Linked DNA regions of Homo sapiens. The protein of the gene in region 1 interacts with the protein of each later gene in a pairwise test. Each region holds a gene or a part of one and is shown on either strand. Other genes may lie near its edges.

Region 1 (7,940 bases):
ATGTCTCATCAATAATTCTGAATATTCTATAATCAATGAATGAAGAAGATCTCATATCATCACAACCAAAGGAAAACTGACCCTTCCAGTTATGGTGTTAATAAAAAAAAAGAGAAATATGATGAACAATCCCCTAATGTTTAATTTGGGAGTAATATTTCAGAGTAAAACAGCTATGTAAATTACAGTAACCAAAAGAAAAAGCTGATTCTAGTAATTTACAGAATTATTTTGGTATCAAAACCAACTCCAAAACCCCTTAAAAATGTGTACTAGTGGCTAAAGTCACTCTGAAATATCCTGAAATTACTGGACACCCCACCTACTCACTCCTTGTCTTTACATACACTGTTCTTCCTGCCTTTTGAGGACTACTCATTCTTCAAAATTCAGCTTAATAGTCACCTTTTCAAGAAGCCCCACCTGATGCCCAAGACCTAATAAGCTGCTTCTCAAATGAGCTGTGCATTTTATCACATTATTACATAATATTTTGCTTCTTAGCTTGTTTTCCTCAGTAATCTGTGGGTTTCTCCTAAGGGCCATGTTTTATTTACATTTAAGTGCTTAGCTGCCATCAATATGAGATGAACGAAAATAGTCTAACCATGTGGGAATGTTGTTTTAAGATGTTATCACAAATACATTATTTCTTATGACTGAGAATGTCAAAATATGCAATTGGAAAAGCATCATGAATAAGATAAATTCTACTATTTAATCAGTGTTTGCAAAATGCTAGTTCTTCCTATTGATGCTTGGATATACAAAATTCTTCCTTCAAAAAATGTGTCTCAAGATAAAAGTTTAAGAGAAAAAAAAATTAGTAATTCAACATGAGGTTAGATCATTATCTTAATTCCCTAATAAGTGAACAGTCCTACCTCTGCATCAAACTTAGTAAATATTGATGAACCTAATATTAACTTTTAATCTGTTGTTTTAAATTATTTGTTCTGTTAACATGATAATCAAGATCTAATAACATTAAGAAAAAAAAATGCCTGCAATGCTATTTCCCAAGATAGCCAGTTCATTTCATACTTAAGGAGTAGGTACTTACCTCTGAATAAAGAGGTGGAGGCAAGAATCGAAACTCCTGGATATATGCAAACAGTGGTCCTTGAAGGGCTCTCTCAAAGTCATCACAAGCACTCACTGGTGCAAGATTGTTCCGCCTTTGTTCCTCTGTTACCACTTCTGCATAGCTGGGTGGTGCTGAAGGAAAAAGATACACGCAATTCGAACAGCATGTTCTTATGCATGTCAAAATACACAGAATAGTAGGTATTAAAAAGCAACGTCAAGGTAAAATAATTATTGTTTGGTGATCAAAACTATGAAGACATATAATCAAAACTGAATATTAGGGGCACATCTACTTTCTTTAGGAAAAGATTATGTTCATCTAGGGTCATAAAATATCAGAGGCAAAATAATTTTCTTGATAATAGTAGTAAGAGATTAAGCTTAGACGTGTATTATCAAATTACCTTCAGGTCTTTCAGGAAGTGATAAACTGAGCCAGTTCATATTCATGCTACACTGACTGCTTACACTTGAGGTTCTGCTACCAAATGGATGTAGAGGAATGGTACCGATGACAAGTGGCAAATTAAGAAATAAATCCATAGCTCCAGGAATATCCACATATACCTAAACATTGCAAAGAAATATTAAGTTTAGAATGCCAAGTATGATTTCCTTTTCAAAAACTCATAACCAATTTTAATGTTATTTGAAACCCCCATTTACTTCATTTTTAAACTTACATACATGAAAAGTTTCTCTTTTATGTATAATTCTGTATAGTACATTTACATATAAGGTATAATTGTAAGTCAAACTATATAAAGAGTTATGTATTTTATATGTCACTATATATGGAATTTAAAAAAATCAAATCCTGGATGTAAGACAAAACTATGTCATAACTTTAAGACTTAAAAACAAAACAAAAAAAAACACCAAAAACCTCTTGGGCCAGGCACTGTGGCTCATGCCTATAATTCCAACATTTTGGGAGGCCATGGTGGATGGATCACTTGAGCCCAGGAGTTCAAGACCAACCTGGGCGACATGGTCAAACTCCATCACTACAAAAAATACAAAAATTATCCAGGCATGGCTATAGGCACACCTGTAGTCCCAACTACTTGGGAGCTGAGGTGGGAGGATCACTGGAGCCCAGAAAGCAGAGGCTGTAGCGGAGCTGAGACTGTGCCACTGCATTCCAGCCTGGGTGACAGGTGTTTCAAAAAAGAAAAAAGAAAGGAAAAAACCTCTTAAATGTGTACATACCATTAGTGAATATTCCACGCGGATTATACTACAGTCGAGGATAGAGGGAGAAACTGGTGGAATTTTCAGCAACTTGCCATTCCACGTCTCTGTCTTTCCAGATGATAAGGATTCCCCACGCAAGTTAGCCACAAGCTGTTTTACTTCCTTCATTTTCCCTTTGGCATAGAAGGCCTGTGTTTGGTAAATGGCTGCCTTTGGCACCACCATTCGGGAAGAGCAGTTCTCAATCTCAGCAAATATCTGAATTGATTCACCTAGAGAGGGAAAAATATATACATATCTACTGTTAGAAAAAAACAACAAAAGAAGTCAAGATTCTTAAAGCTAAAGTAAGAAAGTGCAACTAACATACATGAAAAGATGTCCCAGGAACTGCAAATAACTTGAGTCATAGAAATGAACTAATCAGTAGCTATTTGAAAAAGGAAACTACATTCTACTTTGTGAAAAAAACAAATGGATAAGCACAATTTGTTATTTCACAAAAGAATACTATATTATGTTTATATTTAGTAGTCATATTATAAATTTAAACACAAAAGCTAAGTGAAGAAAAGTTTTTTGTGGGAATCTACCTCTTACATACCTGGGGTATAGCCCTTCCTTTCAATTTTGGCACTTAAGGATATTGGGCCTGAGGTACAGAACCAGCAACAGAGTGTCTTTTCTTTTGTGCCTGCTTGGGGTGACTGTAAGAAAAAAATTAAGAGAAAAAGGTCAGTGTATGGATTGGTACAATCAATACCAGAATATTTTAAAATATAACCCTAAATTTATGGAAAATTAAAAATTACAACTGGTTTTGCTTTTTTTTTGTATCCAGACATACTTCTTATTTTTTAACTAACCGATGGTTTTGAATTATACCATTACTTTTATTTTCATATAAATTTCCATTCAATTAGAAAAAAAAGGTAAAGGGTTTACAGCCTATCCCATAAACATAGTTTTTTAGCTCACACTATTTACAAATATAGTAATCAAAAACCAACCAAATAAAAAAAACCCTTTCCACATTCCATTTAAACTGCCTTAAAAAGGCAGCAAAGAAAGCAATCTGATTATAATTCCAAATGTTAACATCTTTCTCTGAGACTATTAAAAAATCAATATGTAAAAAAGGAAAATGCCCATTTCTTATGTGCTTTAAAGATGTTACCATTTGTTTAAATCAAATAAAGTTTTAAGTCAAATTTGAATTATTTTCAGACAAATGCAATTAAAAATAGATTTCTTTAAAAAAGGAGTTTTTTAATGAAACTAATGATTCCCCATTATTTGACAACTATCCCTCTATTGGAATAACAAAGTATAGTACAAATTTTAGATTATGATATTGTCAAGTAAGTGATATTGTATTATAATAAAAGATACTACTGCTCTTCTTCCACTCAAATCATCCAAGGACCAGATCTGTTTTTTGTTATGGCTGTCATACTCTGAGTAAGAGATACTTCATATCATATACTGGTCTTAGTTTTATATTTACTTAAAGGTATACTACAATGTCAAAAATATGAGCATATTTTTCATTAATTTCAGTGTTCTTGACTGTATTTAAGAAAATGTATATTTATGAAATTTTAAAAGAAAACCAGTATTTTTAAATTATGACAACTGCATAGTTTAGGTGATTGATTATTCTTTAATATTTATATGCCAAAAACAAAGAATAAATAATTCAGTCAATTCTTACCAGTAATGAAGGAGTGTTGATATCTATATGCTCAAAGACTGTAAATTCCTTCTTTAATTTTACTGGTAGTAGCCAAGGCCTGTGCAATTCGGCTTTCACCCAATAGCGCACACTGCCATGTCGGCCTTCGAATGAGGTAGCGAGTGGTCTGTGCAGAATATAAAGGTCAATATATTAATTTTATACCTCTTTCTAACAATTACACAGTAGGTCAGAATAGAAGTGTTAATATATTGTATTGTTTATGTTCCAATGAGGTATCAAACATATAATTTAAAAAATTTCCAAAGGGATAAGTCACTGGGGAAAAAACTTCCTATTTCCAACTAAGAATAAACAATAAATATCTTTAAAATTTTGCTTTAAAAAGCCAGAAGAATACAATCCATTTAAACTAAGAGGAGGCTACTTTTAATGATGGTGGCAAAATCATGAAAGTTTAATGGGCATTTTTTGAAAAGGCCAAGAATTCAAACACAAAGTTGAGAATGGTTTAACTATTTCTACTGATAAATTCTAGACACTGGTTAAACATTCAGACCAAATTCCCTATAGTACTCCACTTCTCATTAGCCGGGAATTATCATCTTTTAATAGCAACTAACTAAGGTCTAGAAAAGGCCTGGAATAGTCATTATAGTTTCAAAAATTTCACATTTCCTAAGTTTACTGAAAAACTACTTTTGTATCTCTCAGTTTACTCATGTTCTAATTCTTGTTTGGCTGTTCTCTAACTTTACGGGCTTCAAAAGAAAAAGATATAGTCCTCTTGATCTATGTCAAGAGAATAAAAAAAAATTTTTTTTAACTCTGTCAGATTTTACTTGTGGAAGGTTTTATTTTAGCAAGTTCAGTATCTTTTTCATAATTTCATTAGTAAAATACTCAATGTTCAGTTATTTACAAGAGTGCTAGCTTAGATTAGCATAAGAAACACTGGTGTTTTCATAATTTTTTTTTTTTTTTGCATTTTAGACTCCCACATTAACTTGTATAGCAGAGAAATAAAATCTTAAACTGTATGCTAATAGTTATCCAAAATTTATGTTAAATGACTTTGGTTTATGGATAGAACTTTAACATTAAATGACGCTGAAAATACTCAGGCCCCATATTGGCCTTATTCTATCAACAGACTTTAATATTTTTCTCAGAAATTAGATGAGGGCATTATATTCCAAATAAAATTCTCAAATAATACAGTAAATAGAATTTTCTAAAAAATACCATTTATGACTTCTCTCTCTATATATAACATCTCAAGCACTAGAATTAACAAATGCAGAATTAATGTACATTTGTCACCTGACAAAATCTTATGTAATCTGTTTATTCTCCAGAATAATCACCACAAGTGCCATTTTGCAGGTTTTAATATTTGTTAAAAGGCATTTTTTTTTAAAAAGTTTGTATCATCTCTTCCAACAATCTGTCATTACTTTAAGAATATACCACTTTCCTTTTTCCTTTCTTACTAGATTCCAAGTTTTATATTAATGTATCCTTGATGCATGTTTCCTTTTAAGCCTGGGTCATATCTCTTGTGTGACCTTCCCAATAGTTCTTTGTACAGAAGCTATTAAGTTCATATCAGAAGAAAAACATTTCTAAAGTTAGGATATTCCTAATTATTTTTATTTTCGAAACTTACTGCTATTGGTTAGTATTAGCAGAAAAAGTAGAATATAGAATTTTTTATAAATTGAAGCTACTAAGACTTGATAGGGTCTATCTTTTCTCATAATGATAATTGATAATAAACTAAGTATAAAGTGGTTATTATTCGACTAGCAACTTCCAATTCACTCATGTTAAAGGAAACCCTATTCCTATTTTAAAAACCTCATAAACTTTAGGAAAGAATACTGAAAATTGAGTATGCTTTCTATAATTTTGCCACGCTAGATTAAAAAATAGCTTCTTATGTTTAATATATTGTTTTCCTCTAGCAAGTTTCAGTAATGAAAAGGGTTTTTTTTTCAACTAAAAATGTTTAAATTTAGAATACTTAATTTTAAAATAATGCTCTGATCATAAGTATCTATAAAAATGCCTATTATTTATAATACTTACGTCTGTGGAAGCTCGAAGCTGAATGCATATTCATGCCTTCCTGAATGAATAGTGTGGAAGCCTTCTTCGGAATTATCATCATCTAAAACAAACATAAAAAGAAAACAAAGAATTTATTATTCAACATTTACATACTCCGCAGGGTGGCATAACTTTAAAGATGCTTACATAACAATTAAGACCACAAAACAAGCTTTGGAGTCTGAGAGATCTGAGTTCTAATTCTAACTTCATCATTTCCTCTGGACAAAATAAAAATCCTGTCGTCAGCTGCCTTATCTGTAAAATGGGGATAATGAATACTCACACCCCACAGGCTTTTTATTTTTTCTAATGGAAAATGACCCAAACTGCAAAGCATCTGTTTATAAAATAGTATATATACTCAAAAGGCTCGGGTCTCACATCATGGTAAGACAATGCTATCCTTTGTCTCCAACGGTTTGCTTAAATTTATCACATTAAGACTATAATGTATCAAAGAAAAACTGTTCATGCAACCCTCTTAAAATATGTCAGTTTATAGGGAATAATAATACCAGATGTGAATAGAATAGATACTCCAAAACCACTAGAAAACCTTGTCAAATAGACGGAGTAAAAAAAAAAAAAAAAAAAGCCACACATTGATTTTAATGTCAGATTTATAACTAAAAATAATTATTTATTGAACTAAAAATAATTATTTATTGATCTAAAATGATCACAACACTCAGTTGGTCCTAGCAACGACTAAAACTTGCATAAACTATACCTTAGATAATTACAAAGAACCGCATTTAGGTGGTGTCGGCTTATAAGGAAACAATATTTTCCAACATCCTTGAAAAAAATGAAGTCTAACTATTAATAGTTTCCAGTTTCTATAAAAAAGGGATGACCTTTCATTTTACAACCAATTTTTTTGGTGAAATTATTTTTTTTCAAGTGGCATGAAAATAAATATAATCGAAAATATGGGAGGGGGTTCTAGATCATTAAAGTGCCTATTTAGCGTTTTAAATAATTACAGAAATATCTTTTAAAGTTTTCTTGGTGTAGAAACCTTTACGATTAGCCCCCAGAGTAGAAAAAACTGGCACATTATTTAACTTTCCTTCAGCAAAGTATTGGATATACACAAAAAACGTGATGCCTCCCTGATATTAAACGAGAAAAAGGGGGAAAAAAGCATGTATACGTCGATACTTTCATTTAAAAATCATGGTGATTCGCTTATGTCTCCATACAATTTTCCTCGTCCCCTGTGCAAATTCCCCTGAACGGATTTCAGAACCAAAAACTAGCTGATGAGCTGGGGGCCATTTAAATTCGCTCCCCTCGAAGGCGCCCGAAGTTCGCCTTCCTTTCCCTTTCTTCCCTCTTCGCTCCCTTTTTGTGCCAGCTCAGCAGTCTCATTGAAGCGAGCGGCGGCGGCCGCGCCGTGGTAAACAAGTGCCGGGCTGTCAATCAAGAACTAGACCGGAGCAGGAGAGGACCGGCCTAAACCGGCGCGAGCAGATCCCAGCCGGCCTGCCCGCGCGCCGCCGCCGCCGCCGCTGCCGCCCGCGCGCCCCGCTATACATACGGCATACGTCGCGCGGCGCTCGCGCCCGTGCCCGCGCAACCTAGCCTGCTGGCCGGGGGGCGGGGCGAGCGAGCCGCGGCGCTTCCGCTTTACACGCCCCAGCCGGCGACCGGTTCCATCTGGCTCGGGCCACTCTGACACCTTTAGTTTCGGCAAGGGATATTGGGGTGGCGAAGGGGAGGCGGGGGCCCGAAGGCTTCGGAAAACGATGGGGGAGGGGGCAGAGGATACCCGTCGAAGCCCCCCCCTCCCCCAACATTTCGATATTGGAATCACTTTCCTTCTTCCTCGGGCCAGCCT
Region 2 (7,940 bases), on another chromosome or scaffold:
TATCTCAACTTTCAGGCATCCACTAGGGAGTCTTGAAATGTATTCCCCACAGATAAGGGGGAACTATTATAGAGGGCCATAACTGCTTATCTACAATTCTAGAATCCCAAAACTCTGAAAAAAAAGAAAAAAAAATCAAAGGTTTTTTAATAAGGTTGTTACAAAATAATTTGGTAGCAACCCTAAATGTGAACTGACTTGAAACTATTTGTAGCTTCCACTTATTCCACCTGTATGAATATTAATACATTTTTGGTGTGGAAACAGTAATGTCGAGAAACATTACTGTGGAACAGATTACATAAAGTACCACAAACACATCATACTACCTTTCTAAAACATGAAACTTTCTGCATTCTGAAACACATCTGGCCCCAAGGGTTTCAAATAAAGGATTGTGAACTTGTAAAAATTGAAGTAACTTGTGTATTGTCATAATGATGAAAATAAAACCCAAATGAAGAGCACACATTTCTAACCTGTGTGTAATTCAATGTCAAACTGAATTTTGATGACTGTCCAATGTTATTTCTCCATGATGTTACTTTAGTACTCCTAGTAGAACATAATAGATATAACCAGCCTAAAGCTAGATCACGCAGGGATATAATTAACTGGCACAAGACCTAAAAGAAATAAAATACTGCTGTAAGCATTTCTGGCCTCAGAAGACCATAATTTAGCAAGTACTCAAGGTAGTCATTCCTGTGGTTTCACATAAAAAATAACACACACGTATGACAAATAATATAAGACATATGTAAACTACGCATAGAAGTAGCAGGAAGTGAAGAATCAGCTGAGGAAGGTGTAGGTGAATATATTAAGGATGCATCACTAATAAGACAGGAAAACAGTCAAAAGCAAACTATTCAAAAATTCAAGAGGCAAAGTACAGGAACAAATATCTATAGGAGGGTCTCTCAACTTCAGCACTAGACATTTTGGCCCAGATAATTCTTTATTGTGGGGGTCTGTCCTATGTATTACAGGGTATTCAGCAGTACCACTGACGTCTACCTACTAATGTCAGTGGTAGCCCCCTTCTCCTTCAGTTATGAAAAGCAAAAAATATCTCTGGGCATTACCAATTGTCGCCTAGCCTGGTGGCTGGGGAAGGGGAGGACAAAAATTGCCTCAGTTGAGAACCACTGATCAAAAGGCAAAAGAAAGGTTAAAAGTTTGAAGATGTTTCAGCTTCCAGATTCCAATTAAAATGCCCAAATATACTTACCTGTCAAAATTGGTATGTGGAAAAAAAAATCACTTTCTATTTCTCTAGATTTACAAGTGATTTTATTATGTTTTTATCTCATATTGATAGGGAAGAAGAGACTGAAAGGACAAGTTCTTCATTCTCAATCTGAATGTCCTTACACTCTATGCAAGACTTGCTGATTTTCCTGAAAAGTAAACATATCCATCTGTTGTTACAGCAACTCATTTAAGGAGAGCATAAAGTACTAATTGGTTATGAGAGGAATATGACTGGTTATGTGAGCATGTAGCTGCGAAGTAAACATATAACTTTTTTTAAAAGCACATGCTGTTTTACCCACCTTCTAATTACATTATCTGCATTGAACTTAATAGATCCTTAATAAAAATGTGAAGTTTAGTGGGAAGAATATTATTTTCAGTTGGTCACTCTTTTGGAAAATGTTTCCAGTCACACAGAGTACTGAGTATTTCTGCTACACTGGCACGTATGGAGGAAATAACTAGGCCTACTGTGAGTATCAATTTCCTCTTATAAGCAAAAACAGTAGCTAGGTAAACTTTGAATAGGTTATTAAATATTAAGTATCATAATTATGAAAAAGGTAAAGAATGTATAGGATATTTAATAAATTTTCTCTGAAGTCATTGTTTTGCCTGGAATTGCTATTTCTATGTCAATTTGAGAGACTTCAATTTATTTATTAACAGACCTTCACATGCAAAGCACCATGTGAAGTAAGGAAAAGATACAAAAATGAATGAGACAATCTCTCCATTCAAGGAACACTCGCTCTTGCAGAAAGCAGACAAATATTATAATACAGCATGAAAAAAGTACTTTATTACAGTTGTGTTGAAGAAACTATTAGCTTGTTGAAAAATAAAACGTCAATTTGCTTTGATCATAAACCATTTAAAATTATCACTAACGCCCAAGTCCCCAGAAAAACCCTCATGATTTTTGAGGTTTATGCTGATGCCAAAATGAATTTATTAACAATAAAACTAATAATACAAACTATCTGTAGATGACCACCCACGGCATAATGGGATGAAAAATACTTTGTCAGAGTAGTTCTGTATTTATCTGTTTTACAGTCGAGCTTCCAATTAAGATTTAATTTTTATAAAAAGCGGGTTCCAGGACCTTTTTTTTTGAAGAATTGAAAATAAAAGGACTAGATAACTAATGAGATACAATCTTGTAGCAAACACTAAAACAAAAACAATCAAATGTATTAAGTAAAGAAGAAAAAGCAGTCTATCTACATGTGTGAGAGAGTTTAAAACCAAGTACTCTATAAGCAACCAACAAAGCTAATATAGGGATCACATGTTATTTCAATTATTACCTGCTTTCATACGCCAATTAGAAAAAAGCTTTCAAAATTTCTCCTTAGTTCACAGACATGGAAAGAATGCTATGGGGTTAGGTAATGCAGGTAACAGCAATCCAGAATGTGAATTTTACAACTGCTGATATAATCCCATTCACAGTAAAATCACAAATTCTTCTATTTTAAAAGGGGAAAATATAATCATTACTCATCTAAAAATTGTTTATTATACTTTACTGGACAATCATAATATTCTCTATTGAATTAAATATCATTAATCTTATGCATGTTCCTTTAAAAGGAATACAATATTTGTTCATCTATGCCTGAAGTTTTTAGGCTAATTTTCTTTTTTACGCAAGTTCCTAGGAACTGCTTTTACTGACATTAAAAAACAAATTGCTTGTTATGTACTTGTACTCAATTATCTGGTGAACTGACTAAGATAAAATTACATAAGATGTCAATGCACTAGAGAAAATGCCAGCAACAGTGAGAGCACATCACTACAGGCTACACTGTCTCTCCCATTTTTATCTTGCTGTGGCCACTTTACTGACTCGATTTACACTGCTACAAAACTTAAACACATTAAGTCATTTAATCCTCACAATAACCCTATTATAAAGGGGGGTATCATTTTAATCCCCACTTTACAACTGAGGAGAAGAACCGAAATATTCCAAAATGTATCTAAGGTAATAACATAGCAAGTTAGTGACAGAGCATGGATCTGAAACCAGACAGTCTTGCTCCAGTACCAGCACTTTTCAAACCTACTTATATATACAATTCACCAGGAATCTTGTTAAATTCAAATTCTGGGTTGGGGGTTGGGGGAAGCAAGAGTCTGCATTTCTAACAACCTCATCTGTGACGCAGATGCTGACAGTCAGCAGCTCACTCTTTTAAGTAGCAAAGTTCTAGTCCGCCCTAGAAAATGATGGAAAGTGGTAGCAACCCTCAGAAGAAAGCAGAATTTATCCTCAGACAATTAGGCTAATGAGGAATCTAGAGATTATCAACTACTGGTTTAGAAACAACTGCTTCTTTTATGATTTCATTATTTTTTTATTTTTAAAGAAGAAAGTCAACGAAATCACCTGATCTCAGGTTTTGCTAGTCAATATATTAATACTATTAACTTGAAACTGTAATACATATCCCCCAATATGGCCTTTCCCACATCAAGAAACTATTTATTAATACAAATACCCCCAAATATCTCCAGTATAGATTCAATCTGAACATACACTCTTAAAATATTCGTCAGTATATTTGTGCTTCTTCCTATATGGAAAGAAATTAGGGGTTAAGTTAGAAATCCAGTACCTTTCTAAACTTTCGCTGTTTGCACAAGTGGTGACTAGGAGAGGACAAGGACACCCTCTGGGAAACAGATGGAAAGTAAATGTCTTAATAACACATCACTAAACAATTCTAGTCAACAATTCTCAATAAATACAAATAGGGAAATGCCCATAACACAATTTCCCTTGACTCTCATTGATGTATAAATTATTTATACTTTATGTAAACAGCATAAACTGAAACCAATAAATAAACATATCCCTATGTTTAGTACACTATGGCCCATGGCCCTCCAATACCTAAAACCATTTAAAATAACATCAAATCACTGGAAATAACGTCATTATCAAACTTTTACACTATCGGGAAAAGAAATATCAATGCTATCAAAATATATTAAAACATGTATAAAGCCATACACAATTCAATTAAATCTATCTTAAGATCACCCTGGGTATGTATGTACTAGACATAACTATATACTAATTAAAGAATATTTCATTAATTAAAACACAGGAAGGGATTTTAGAGAAATCATCCCAGTCTGAATAATTTTGGTTTTGCTGAGTTTTCTTGTGTTTCATTCAACTTTTTCCTGAATGTACACAGATATACTTTACATTTCTTCCCTGAGGAAGAATTAAATCTGTCATGTACTTTGACAAGCTTGTAAAAATCATATTCAAAACTGTAATGGAATTCTGATTAAATAACTACACACGAAAGCCAAATGTATTAGGTTTCATAGATCTCAGGCAATATGAATTCACATATTCTAGAATTTATGAATATAGATTCCATTTTTAATTATAGCATAAATTAATAAATTTAAACTGTACAATCACCGTAAAGCTAAAATTCTCATTTACGCACTTGTCAATTAAAAGAACATAACACCACAGTCTGTCACAGATCTGACATGAAGGCAAAAATACAATACAAATTCAGGCTTTTTATTTGTCAAAGTTCTAAAACACCTTTACTAAACACTCAGTATTCCAATTCCTACTCAAGGACAAAAACTAGGTCTTCTTCCACCCACAAGAATTTGAAGACAAAGTATCTGGATATTTTACATGTGAGGCATATGGTAAAACACTGCCTCCAAATAATAAGAAACCACTTATCCTGGTTCCCTACTAAGACATACTGTATGTCTGTTTTTCACATACCACAGCCACACATAAACTCATCTATTAAAAGAACCTGAGAACTGAAAGATGTCATTTGCAGCAGTTGATAGTCATCACAGGTTGTGACAAGGGAAAGCAGGGATGAGGTGTTCCATGTTACTGTTCACAGAAAGCCCAAAGTTTTGATGTTTCACTAGTCTGATCACTAAATGAGGAAGCATTATTTCAAGGACTTAAATGAAATCTGGTATATAAAGAGAAAGACAAGTGAAACCTCCTATCTCATTGAAAGATTCTACTCCCTCTAAAATAATCCTCAGTGACCTTGAGGAAACATTCCGGAGTTAAACATGTAAAGTAGATTTCTTTGGCAACTGCAACACTAGGCTATTGCTCTGAGGGCACTTAATACATGTCTACTAGGCTCTCTAGATTTATGCACGTACATTAGTTTGTTTCATTTGCAGACAATCAACAGAAACCTTTAAAAATGTTTGACCCTACATGCAATTTTAAAACATTTAAGAGTTCTGAATTGATAGATCTTTACATTTTTCATAATGGGAAATATCAGAATACACTCTGCAAGTTAAGTGATTCTTCCAGGGAGCAAATTTAACTTGACCTCCCTAAATGGCTACAGATTTGACACACCATTTAGAAGGCTGGAGGGAAAATACTTTCATTTACTTGTTCTCTAAAGCGGCACTGTTCAATAGAAATACAATGCAAGTCACATACGTAATTTTAAATATTCTAATAACATATTAACATAGTAAAAAAGTGAAATTAATTTTAACATTTTATATAGCCAAATATATCCAAAATATTATTTTAATATTAATGAACTTTTTTTAAGTCAATGCAGTATTATACATCCTTTTGTTGTACTAAGTTTTTAAAATCCAATGTGTATAAATTTTACCCTTATAGCACATCTCATTTTGGACTAGCCACAACTGAAGAGGCCAATAGCCACATGTGGCAAGTGGCTACATTACCGGACAGCATAGCTCTTAAGTAATACTTTGAGATCTCACATACCACCATCTCCTTAAAATTAGTTTACATTCATGTTTCCTGTTTGAACTGAAATTACAAATACAAGCAAACTGTTCATTCATCGGATAAATCAGGATCAAATCACCTTATCTGAGGATCCAGTTAACATACACAATAAGAAGCAACTGGATTATACCCTATTATATCACAAGCAGACTTCAGAGACAGGGTCTGATCATCCCAAGTGAATACAACTTGTAGCAAAAATACAGGTTAAACATGAAAACATTGTCCTATCAAACCATAAAACTGCCTAATTCCTTGCAGCCACTCGCATTATTGAGCACATATCTCTTCACAAACTATCTACAATATTGTTTTCTATGCGTGTTCAATTTTGTAAGCCATAGTCATTAAAAAAAGAATAGAGCGCTATACAAATGAAATGAAAAAAATTATTAGAGAAAAAATAATCAACCAGCTACTTTTAATGTATCTTATACCAACCAATAATCTTAAATTCATCTACCTGAGTTCCACTAAAATGAATTCCCACAATTCCAATTCATTTACTGCTTTTCATACACATATTCCAACCACCAAAATTACTAAAAATGTTCCCAAGCAATTAGGACATTTGCTTAAAACGTAAATAATTCCAACAATGCATTCTGTAGAAAACGACCACTAAAACCATTAGCTTAGCCCATAAAATTTGTCCTTAAGGCTAGTAACTGAATAAATCAAACAGAACCAACTATATGCTTATTTACTGCATTTACATTTTGTAACACCACATTCAGCAATTTCTAAATGTGGAAGGTCAGTTCAGATTGCACACACAAGCAGTAACTTTAAAGCTTAGCAAAATTTTAGAAGTTTCTTCAGTATACTTCTGAAAAAACACCCTCTACAGAAATACATCAGAACAAAAATCAGCACCATTCATATGAATATCAGAAGCACAAAATCAGTATATTCATAAATCCACAATGTATACTTATGCTAAAAAGTATTTTTTCTCCCAATTTTATCTAGTTCACCTTCTACAATTTTTGTTTAATGCACTTGCAAAGCTGTAAAGAAGCAAATGTTGTCTCCTCTGCTGCACACATATCCAGACAATACATCAATCTCTTGGTATTTTTCCACAATTTGAAACCAAAACAACAAAATTCATTTCTTACCTGCAATTAGGAGGAGGATCAAGGGTTATTTCAGCTAGCTCCTTCTGAATTCTGTTAGTGAAATGAGAAGAGACAAAAAGGATTTGATATAGTCTACAGAATAACCAGGGAATTACACTGCCCTCTACCACCATGCAGTTAAATGCAAGGCTGGCTCTGCCTTCAGTAATGCTAACATGGCTGCTTCCTCTTTGTTCTCAGAGGCATAACCCAAATCCCTTAACAGAAACTTTGCAGCTTTTTTTCTCACTTGCTGCTGCAAACAAGTAAGTCATTTACACTTGATTGGAGAAATACTCATCCACTAGTACTCAGTAAAGAATATAATATCTATTTCAAAACACTTTTTACCAAAGAAATTCTCTTTTCAAGCTTATATGCAAATGAGACAAAAAGGGAGGAGGGAAAGCACTGGAATATTTGACAAGGACTTGAAGTGACTTTTACTGAGGTAAAAATTAACAGGCTACTGCAAGAGCACATTAACAGTTCTGACAATATTTTATCTGTCAAAAAAAAAGTTTAAAATTTACAAATATCTTTACTTGTGAAAAACTTTCAAAGACTACTTGACATTCTAATTTAACCATTTCTGTTTTCCCTGATTTTAGGTACAGCACTTAAATTTAATAAACATTGAGAGAAAGAGGAGAAAATACATAGGCCTGAGTTAAGGGGGAGAAAAGCAGTTCTCTGATTTGATTCAAATTTAAGATGATTTCAAAACTTTAGATGTGTCTAATATGTTC
Region 3 (7,940 bases), on another chromosome or scaffold:
TTTCTAGTAGAGATGGGGTGTCACCATATTGGCCGGGCTTGTCTCCAACTCCTGACCTCAAGTGATCCACCCGCCTTGGCCTCCCAAAGTGCTGGGGTTACAAGTGTGAGCCACTGTAACTTAAATTTAAGAAACTTGTTTCTTAAACCTTCTTTTTTTTTTTCTTTTTGAGTCTCACTCTGTCACCCAGGCTGGAGTGCAGTGGCATAATCATAGCTCACTGTAGCCTCAAACTCCCAGACTCGTGATCCTCCTGCCTCAGCTTTCTGAGTAGCTGGGACTACAGGCACGCGCAGCCGTGCCTAGCTCAAACCTATTTGATCACATAACTCCTTGCCTATGTAATGCACATTAATATCCCACAACACTGGGGGTTACTACGGAGTGTGGTCTGCCGCCTACAATCCCTACTCTGAGCTATGCCATCCTCCACGCTTTCTCTTGTCTGTTCTCCCCAGTGACCGCCAGCTGCGGGCGGGCAGGGCCCTTTCTTCCCTGTTGTGGCTCCCAGGCCTTTTGCACGTGGCTGACCCCAGAGCAGGTGCTCTCAGGGATCTGGCCACTGATGGCTGATGGAGTGGGGGTCCTGGGCGGGCACTAGAGCTGGGGAAGATGTGGGCTCAGCTTGCCTCAGCCCCTTCTGAGGACTGTGCATTTATCACCTGCCTCTCAGCCCCAATTTCTCCATCTGTCATAGGGCATGGTGACCTTGCCCCACTGACCTCATGGGGTGATGGGGGGCGGGGAAATGGAGTCACGTGGACATGCTGTGGCGACAGCACAAAGAGGAACACTGAGCTAAGCAGAGAACGGATGCTGGCAAGGGCTGAGCTGGGGGCTGGGGCTCCAGGATGACTCGGGCTAAGAGCTCATGGGTGTCATCATCATTACTGTCACTCCGGAAGCTGGATGGGGTTGGTGTGGGTCTTGCCAAGGTGGGGGTGGGGGCGATGGTGCATGCTATGGGTCAGTCCCTTCTGAACTTCACTAATTTAAGCTTCAGCTCCACTTTCTGAGGTCAATTCTATGATCTTCATTTTACAGATGAGGGAACTGAGGCATGGAGAGATTAAGTAATTTGCCCAAGGTCACAGAGCTGGGACCAGAATCCAGACAGCTGGACTCTACGGGCTGAAGCCTCTGGCTAGAAAGCTGCAGGAGTGGGGATGGTGGGTGGAGAGGCTGGGGACCCTGGTGGGGGTTGGGGACCCTGAGGAGGACCCTGATGGAGGGTGGAGACCCTGTCAGAGAGGGGACCCTGGTGAGGTGGGGACCCAGGAGGGGGTTGAGGACACTGGGGAGGTGGGGACCGTGGTGGAGGATGGGGACCCTGTTGGGATGGGGACCCTGGGGAGGTGGGGACCCAGGAAGGGGTTGGGGACCCTGGGGAGATGAGAACTCAGGCGGGGACTGGGGACCCTGGTGGAGGGTGGGGGCCCTGTTGGGGTGGGGACCCTGGGATGTGGGGCCTTGGGAGGCACCCTGGGTGCTCACCTTGCAGCAGGCACAGTACTTCCAGCATAGCAGCAGTAGCAGGGCCAGGAGCGGCAGGAGGAGGAGGAGCAGGGGGATGAGCCACCAGAAGGAGCCCGGAGGGCAGTCTGGAGAGGAGGAGGCAGGGGGAGGTGGTGCCTGTCCTCCCCACCGAGCTCTGGCCACACGCCCCCTCCCTGCGCCCGGCCCCACCAGCTCACCCTTCTTCTTGTGCACCAGGACAGTGCTGTTGGGCCCAGGGGCGCCGTCACCTTCCATGGTGTAGCTGTAGGTGCAGTCGTCATCCTCGTCCCGGAAGGAGCAGCGCACCACCACCTCCTCGGCTGTACCCACAGCCAGTCAGCAGGGCACCCCAGCCACACCCCTCCGCCCCAGAGGACCCAGGGTCTGGTGAGGGGGCCCCTACTCTGCGATCTGCCTCACCCACGGCAGGGCCTCCTGGGGAAGAGTGGAAGTCCTTGCAAAGCCGTGCTCTCACCAGGCACAGGAACGGGTGTGGTGGGGGCTCCCCTGCTCAGGAGCATCAGAGCCTAGAAACCTACCTCCCCCACTTCCCTGACCTGGACATCACCCAGGAACTCAGGGTCCAGAAAACGTATCTGATCTCGAGGAGGGGAGGCTGCGTGTCTCCACAGCGTGACCATGTACCCCTGCTGGGTGCATGCCCCTGCCCAAGTCAGGTGCCTCCCACCAAGACTCTTGGTCCCTTCCTGGGCCAGACTGTGTCCCACCGCCTGGGTTCTGTGCCTCCTGCTCAGGCTTTTACCCTTTTCTGGGATTCGGTGTCCTCTATCTGGGTTCTGTGGTCCCTCCCAGCTCTGGAGTTCCTGTCCGGACTGTGTGACCTTAGCCCAGACTGCAAGCCCCCGTCCAGGTGATGACACCCTTGCCCCGTTGGATGCCCGCTGCCTAGGCTCTCAGCAACCCCAACCCTCAGCCCCTGCCCCTACCTCTCTTAAGCTCGTCCACCATCTTGACCTTGAAGTTGCATTCCTCACACGTGCGCCCCTTCTTCTCGCCGGTGCCCCACGCCTGGCACTGCACGCAGGAGCGTAGGTCCTCGCAGAGGCCCGGGTGGATCTTGGCGGGGAAAGGCGGGGCAGACAGGCACTGTGTTGGGTGGGCCTCTGCCAGACCCCCGCTCCCCAAACCTCTTGCCCTTGGCCAGCTCCTGTGGCATCAGGCTTAGCCCCTCCTGCCCACACTGCCCTGTGCCTGCCCTGTTCCCACGCCCACACCTCGTAGGTCTTAGCCTCACCGCCGAGTAGTTGATCTCGCAGATGGTGTCCGTGTAGAGCGACTGCTGGTGGCAGTGGCAGCGGCCACACTCACAGTGGCCACGTCCATTACAGATGCCCTGGGGTAGGAGGGGGCACCAGTGAGCCAGCTGTGCCCCATCCCTGCCTGCTCCCTCTCCTCTCTCCATAGGGTTCTCTCTGGAGAGGGTGGGTGGTGCTGACAGACACTGTCTGTCTTATGCCCAGGCCTACCCCATTGCTGTCGATGCAGGTGGCATTGCTGAGGGGACAGTCACAGCTTGGGCCTGTCCAACCAGGCTCACACACACACTGGCCCATGGAGCAGCGTCCTCGGTCTGCAGAGAGGGACAAGGAAGGGAGATGAGAGCTACATCTGTGCCTGTAGTCCAGGCTGCCCACCTGGCAGGGAGGGCCTGTGGGAACAGAGCTGTGGGAGCCAGGGTGCCGCTAGCCTGGGGTAGAAGTCATCTCTTCCTCACTTTCCTGGAATCTCCTTCCCTCCATCTCTGCCTCCATCCTACCTACCTTCCACTCTGCAGCCTGAGTAATTATCTCAAAACAAATCCAATCATGTGGCTCCTGCTCCCCTGGCTAAGAACCTCTAATGGGTCCCTGCCAATGCAATAAGGTCAGAAAAAGAAATAAGATGTATAAGCATTAGAAGGTAAGAAATAAGTCCAGGCAAGGTGGCTCACGCCTGTAATCCCAGCACTTTGGGAGGCTGAGGCGGGCAGATCACAAGGTCAAGAGACTGAGACCATCCTGGCCAACATGGAGAAACCTCGTCTCTACTAAAAATACAAAAATTAGCTGGTCATGGTGGCGCATGCCTGTAGTCCCAGTTACTCAGGAGGCTGAGGCAGGAGAATCACTTGAACCCGGGAGGTAGAGGTTGCAGTGAGCCGAGATCACGCCACTGCACTCCAGCCTGGTGACAGAGCAAGACTCCGTCTCAAAAAAAAAAAAAAAAAAAGAAAAGAAAAAAGAAATAAAACTGTCAGCCGGGCGTGGTGGCTCACACCTGTAATCCCACACTTTGGGAGGCCGAGGCGGGAGGATCACTTGAGCTCAGGAGTTCAAGACCAGCCTGGCCAACATGGTGAAACTCTATTTCCACTAAAAATACAAAAATTAGCTGGGCTTGGTGGTGGGCCCCTGTAATCCCAGCTTCTTGGGAGGCTGAGGCAGGAGAATTGCTTGAACCTGGGAGGCAGAGGTTGTAGTGAGCTGAGATCATGCCACTGCACTCTAGCCTGGGTGACAGAGCAAGACTCCGTCTCAAAAATCAATCAATCAATCAATCAATAAAATTGTCTTTATTTGCAAGTGTGAGGAACATGTCACAAAGTATCCAGAAGAATCTACAGACAAATTATTAGATTTCATAAGTGCGTTTAGCAAGGTGACTAGATACAAGGTTAATATGCAAATAGTTAGAAAATGAAAGTAAAACCTCCAGTGACCCCCTTTTGTCCAAAGGATGAAGTCCTGCTCTGGACTAGAACCGAAGCCCTTTGTACTCTGGCCCTGCCTCCTTCCCCAGAGGCACCTTCCTCCCTTCCTCTCTCATACCTCCCTCTGTGCCACTTGTCTGCCTTTCTCCAGTGGTGCCCAGTTCTCTCTTCTGTTTCTCTGAGCACACTCAGGGACAGACAGTCGAAGAGAAGAAATGGTGAACAAAAGCAAGAACAGAAGAAAGAGTAGAAAAGCAGGGGCTTGGAAAGTATACAGTGAGGGCTTCATAAGTATTTGATGAGTAGATTTTCATTCATCCTCCTCCATTCAACTACCAATCCTTCCCTATGTCCCCTTGTCTGAGTTCTGTGATCCTGCCCAGCTCTGATGTTCCTGGCCAGACTGTATGCCTATGGCCTGGACCCATGGGAATACAGAGGAAGCTCCAGGCCTTCCAGGTAGAAATTTAGCATCTTTGGGCCGGGCTCAGTGGCTCACACCTGTAATCCCAGGTGTGATTACAGATGTGTACTTTGGGAGGCTGAGGCGGGCAGATCACCTGAGGTCAGGAGTTCGAGACCAGCCTGGCCAACATGGTGAAACCCTGTCTCTACTAAAAATACAAAATTAGCTGGGCATGGTGGTGCATGCCTATAGTCCCACCTACTAGGGAGGCTGAGGCAGGAGAATCGCCTGAACCCAGGAGGCAGAGGTTGCAGTGAGCCAAGATTGTGCTATTGCACTCCAGCCTGGGCGACAAGAGTGAAACTCTGTCTCAAAAAAAAAAAAAAAAAAAAAAAAAACAGCAGCAACAACAACAAAAAACCCACAGAAATTTAGCATCTTTGGAGAGAGGAAAGATCATAATGCCATATACCTGCCAGCCATTGGAGGGCTGAGCTGGGTGGCACCCACTCTAATGAGATAGGGGTGTGGAGAAGTGGGGTGGGCATAGAACTGAACTTCCAGAGAGAACCTCAGGGGAGTTGGAATCTTAAAACCAGGGGAAAGTCCTGCCAACAGTGACCTTGGGCATGGACGTTACAGATGAGGGAAGTCAGGCCCAGGTTGGGGCAGGACTCAGGGGCGGCCCTCAGGGCATCCAGAGTGGGCTGGGCCTGAACTTGGGGATTCTGATTCCAAGTCTGGCTCTCCCAACCTGGGTCCTGACGGGAAAGTCATGCTTGCTGTCCACTCCCTACCCCGCCATCAGCATTGGCCGCAGTTGTTGTGCTCACCATTGCAGAGGAACCCGGAAGTGCGGGGACACTGGAAGTTGTCATACTCGCAGAACTGACCCTCGTAGCGGCCTTCGCCGTAGCACACACAGTGCCCGCACTGGCACTCCCCACGGCCGGAGCACGGCTTGTCCTCGCCCTCCCGCAGGCAGGGCTGAATGTCACTCAGAGAGCCGGTGGAGCAGTTGCAGGTCTGGCCACTCCTGAAGGAGGAACTGGTCATTCCCCGAAACAGCCCAGGAGGAAAGCTGGGGCTTTTGCTGTCCCATTTAATTTAATTTAATTTAATTATTTTATTTTTTTTTTTGAGACGGAGTCTCGCCTTGTCGCCCAGGCTGGAGTGCAGTGGCGCGATCTTGGCTCACTGCAAGCTCTGCCTCTTGGGTTCACGCCATTCTCCTGCCTCAGCCTCCTGAGTAGCTGGGACTACAGGCACCCGCCACTACGCCCGGCTAATTTTTTGTATTTTTAGTAGACGGGGTTTCACCATGTTAGCCAGGATGGTCTCGATCTCCTGACCTTGTGATCCGCCCACCTCGGCCTCCCAAAGTGCTGAAATTACAGGCGTAAGCCACCGCGCCTGGCCTATTTTATTTTATTTTTTTTCAAGACAGAGTTTCGCTCTTCTTGCCCAGGCTGGAGTGCAGTGGCGCGATCTCAGCTCACGGCAACCTCCGCCTTCTAGGTGCAAGCAATTCTGCCTCAGCCTCCCGAGTAGCTGGGATTACAGGCATGCACCACCACGCCCAGCTACTTTTTTGTATTTTTAGTAGAGATGGGATTTCACCATGTTGGCCAGGCTGGTCTTGAACTCCTGACCTCAGGTGATCCACCCACCTCGGCCTCCCAAAGTGCTGGGATTACAGGTGTGAGCCACCTCGCCTGGCCTGCTGTCCCATTTTACAGATGAGGAAACTGAGGCTCTGAGAGGGCCGAGGCAGCTCCCAGTCATGCAGACAGAAGTGGCTGAGCTGAGACCTAAACCCCAGTGCCCTGTCATGTCACCCCTTCCAGTGTCCTTTCCCCACTGCTCTGCCTCAAGTTGTGGCAAGCTCGCCCAGTGTCCTGAAGCTAAAGCCCTTACTGCCGTGCATTTACGAGCTCTCTTCTGATCAGGCAATATGACACAGGACTCAGAATACCAAAGGCATGGAGCAAAAAGGAAGCCTCGTGTGCCTGTCCCCCAAGATCCAGACCCCAGCCCCAACAGCCAACCCCGTCTCAATCCTCACACCTCTTTCTAGAGACAGCCCATATATCTCTGTATTTCAAAGTGCTTTGACCTGGGTTTGACCAACAACTGGGTGTGCCCCGCCCTTAGCCGTTTCTTTGATTGCCGCCCCACCCCCAGCCAGGTGTACAAGGTGCACCCAGGGCCAGGCCCCTGCAGGAGCCCAGCTTTCCCATCAGGGGCCACTGGTGTCCTGGGTGCCCAACTCCCTTCCCCACTCACCAGCCCTCGCTGCACACACACTGTCCGCACACGAAGTCTCCGTTGAAGCTGCAGCGAGCTGACCGCACCTCTTTTTGCTGGAATGAGAGAGACCATGGTGGGGTGCGTCGGGGGAGCAGGACCGGGGCCACTGGACACTTCCGCTCTCCTGTGTGCCTCGGGAAACCCCACAAGGGATATGGGGCACAGGAGTCCTGCTTCATTCCTCAGGGTCCCTGGGTGCTTGGCTCAGCTCTCCCCTCCCGCCCTGCGGGGCTGCGTTGTACCAGCTCGCAGGTGCACACATCACAGATGATGCCCGCGTCCATCTTGAGGCCGTCGGAGAAGGAAGGTTTCAGATGGATGTTGCCCTTCTGGTCCTCCGGCAGCTGGCACACGTGCGTCCCATCCACGTGCTCAAGGGCCCGCAGCTGCACCTGGTATATACCCTGCAGGGGCCCCGTGGTCAGCCAAGGCAGGCCCAGCCCCAAGGACCAGGGGGCCATCGATGCCTGAAGGCCCTCGGCCCCCAAGTTCCTAGGAGATGTCTGGATCCCTGAAATGAGCTCCTGCTCACCTCCCTCAGGGCTGGAAACTCCCTCCTTCCCAGCGCAGTCACAATCATAGCGACAATGACAGTGGCCAGGGCCTCTGGGCTTCGTGACACTAACCCATTTACTGCCCCAGCAAGCCTCCGGGCTCGACGCTTGCATGCCGAGGAAACCAACAAGCAGAGGAGCAACCTAGGCTCATCCGAGCGGCTAGGCCCAGGGATCTGCACCCAGGCCTGCCTGACTCCAGGGGCCACGCTCTTGACCGCTGTTTTAAACGATTCCACTCGGTGTGGGGCGCTGTGCCTATCCCCCACCCCGCTGCCCCCACAGAGGCGTACCACTTCCCCCCGCCGGATGTGAAAGGACCCAGTCCTCGTCTTCTGGAACATCTTGGAGGTGACCTCTGTCCGAAGGCCTCGGGGGCTGTCTAGGGCCCGGATGTCCAGGTTGGAGCGGATCCGCTAAAGGAGGAAGGAGGTTGATCAGTGCTCTGTGGGGGGCCTCTGTG

The links.
Region 2: the proteins of ARRDC3 (region 1) and UBE2E3 interact in binary tests that used the Homo sapiens proteins (3 or more experiments, as listed by UniProt).
Region 3: the proteins of ARRDC3 (region 1) and ITGB4 interact in binary tests that used the Homo sapiens proteins (3 or more experiments, as listed by UniProt).

Annotation. Positions count from the first base shown.
Region 1 is NC_000005.10:91,372,621-91,380,560, forward strand, and holds part of ARRDC3 (arrestin domain-containing protein 3), read right to left. Parts: exon of another isoform or gene 7,727-7,940; intron 7,478-7,726; exon of another isoform or gene 6,828-7,477; intron 6,156-6,827; coding exon 6,074-6,155; intron 4,149-6,073; coding exon 4,001-4,148; intron 2,994-4,000; coding exon 2,891-2,993; intron 2,559-2,890; coding exon 2,302-2,558; intron 1,657-2,301; coding exon 1,494-1,656; intron 1,257-1,493; exon of another isoform or gene 1,219-1,256; coding exon 1,064-1,218; intron 1-1,063. UniProt on the Homo sapiens protein: Adapter protein that plays a role in regulating cell-surface expression of adrenergic receptors and probably also other G protein-coupled receptors.
Region 2 is NC_000002.12:180,983,345-180,991,284, reverse strand, and holds part of UBE2E3 (ubiquitin-conjugating enzyme E2 E3), read right to left. Parts: intron 7,243-7,940; coding exon 7,192-7,242; intron 3,948-7,191; coding exon of another isoform or gene 3,891-3,947; intron 1-3,890. UniProt on the Homo sapiens protein: Accepts ubiquitin from the E1 complex and catalyzes its covalent attachment to other proteins. In vitro catalyzes 'Lys-11'- and 'Lys-48'-, as well as 'Lys-63'-linked polyubiquitination.
Region 3 is NC_000017.11:75,731,199-75,739,138, reverse strand, and holds part of ITGB4 (integrin beta-4 isoform 1 precursor), read right to left. Parts: intron 7,894-7,940; coding exon 7,771-7,893; intron 7,328-7,770; coding exon 7,166-7,327; intron 6,977-7,165; coding exon 6,900-6,976; intron 5,650-6,899; coding exon 5,447-5,649; intron 3,089-5,446; coding exon 2,985-3,088; intron 2,852-2,984; coding exon 2,753-2,851; intron 2,575-2,752; coding exon 2,445-2,574; intron 2,403-2,444; exon of another isoform or gene 1,918-2,402; intron 1,818-1,917; coding exon 1,695-1,817; intron 1,602-1,694; coding exon 1,495-1,601; intron 1-1,494. UniProt on the Homo sapiens protein: Integrin alpha-6/beta-4 is a receptor for laminin. Plays a critical structural role in the hemidesmosome of epithelial cells. Is required for the regulation of keratinocyte polarity and motility.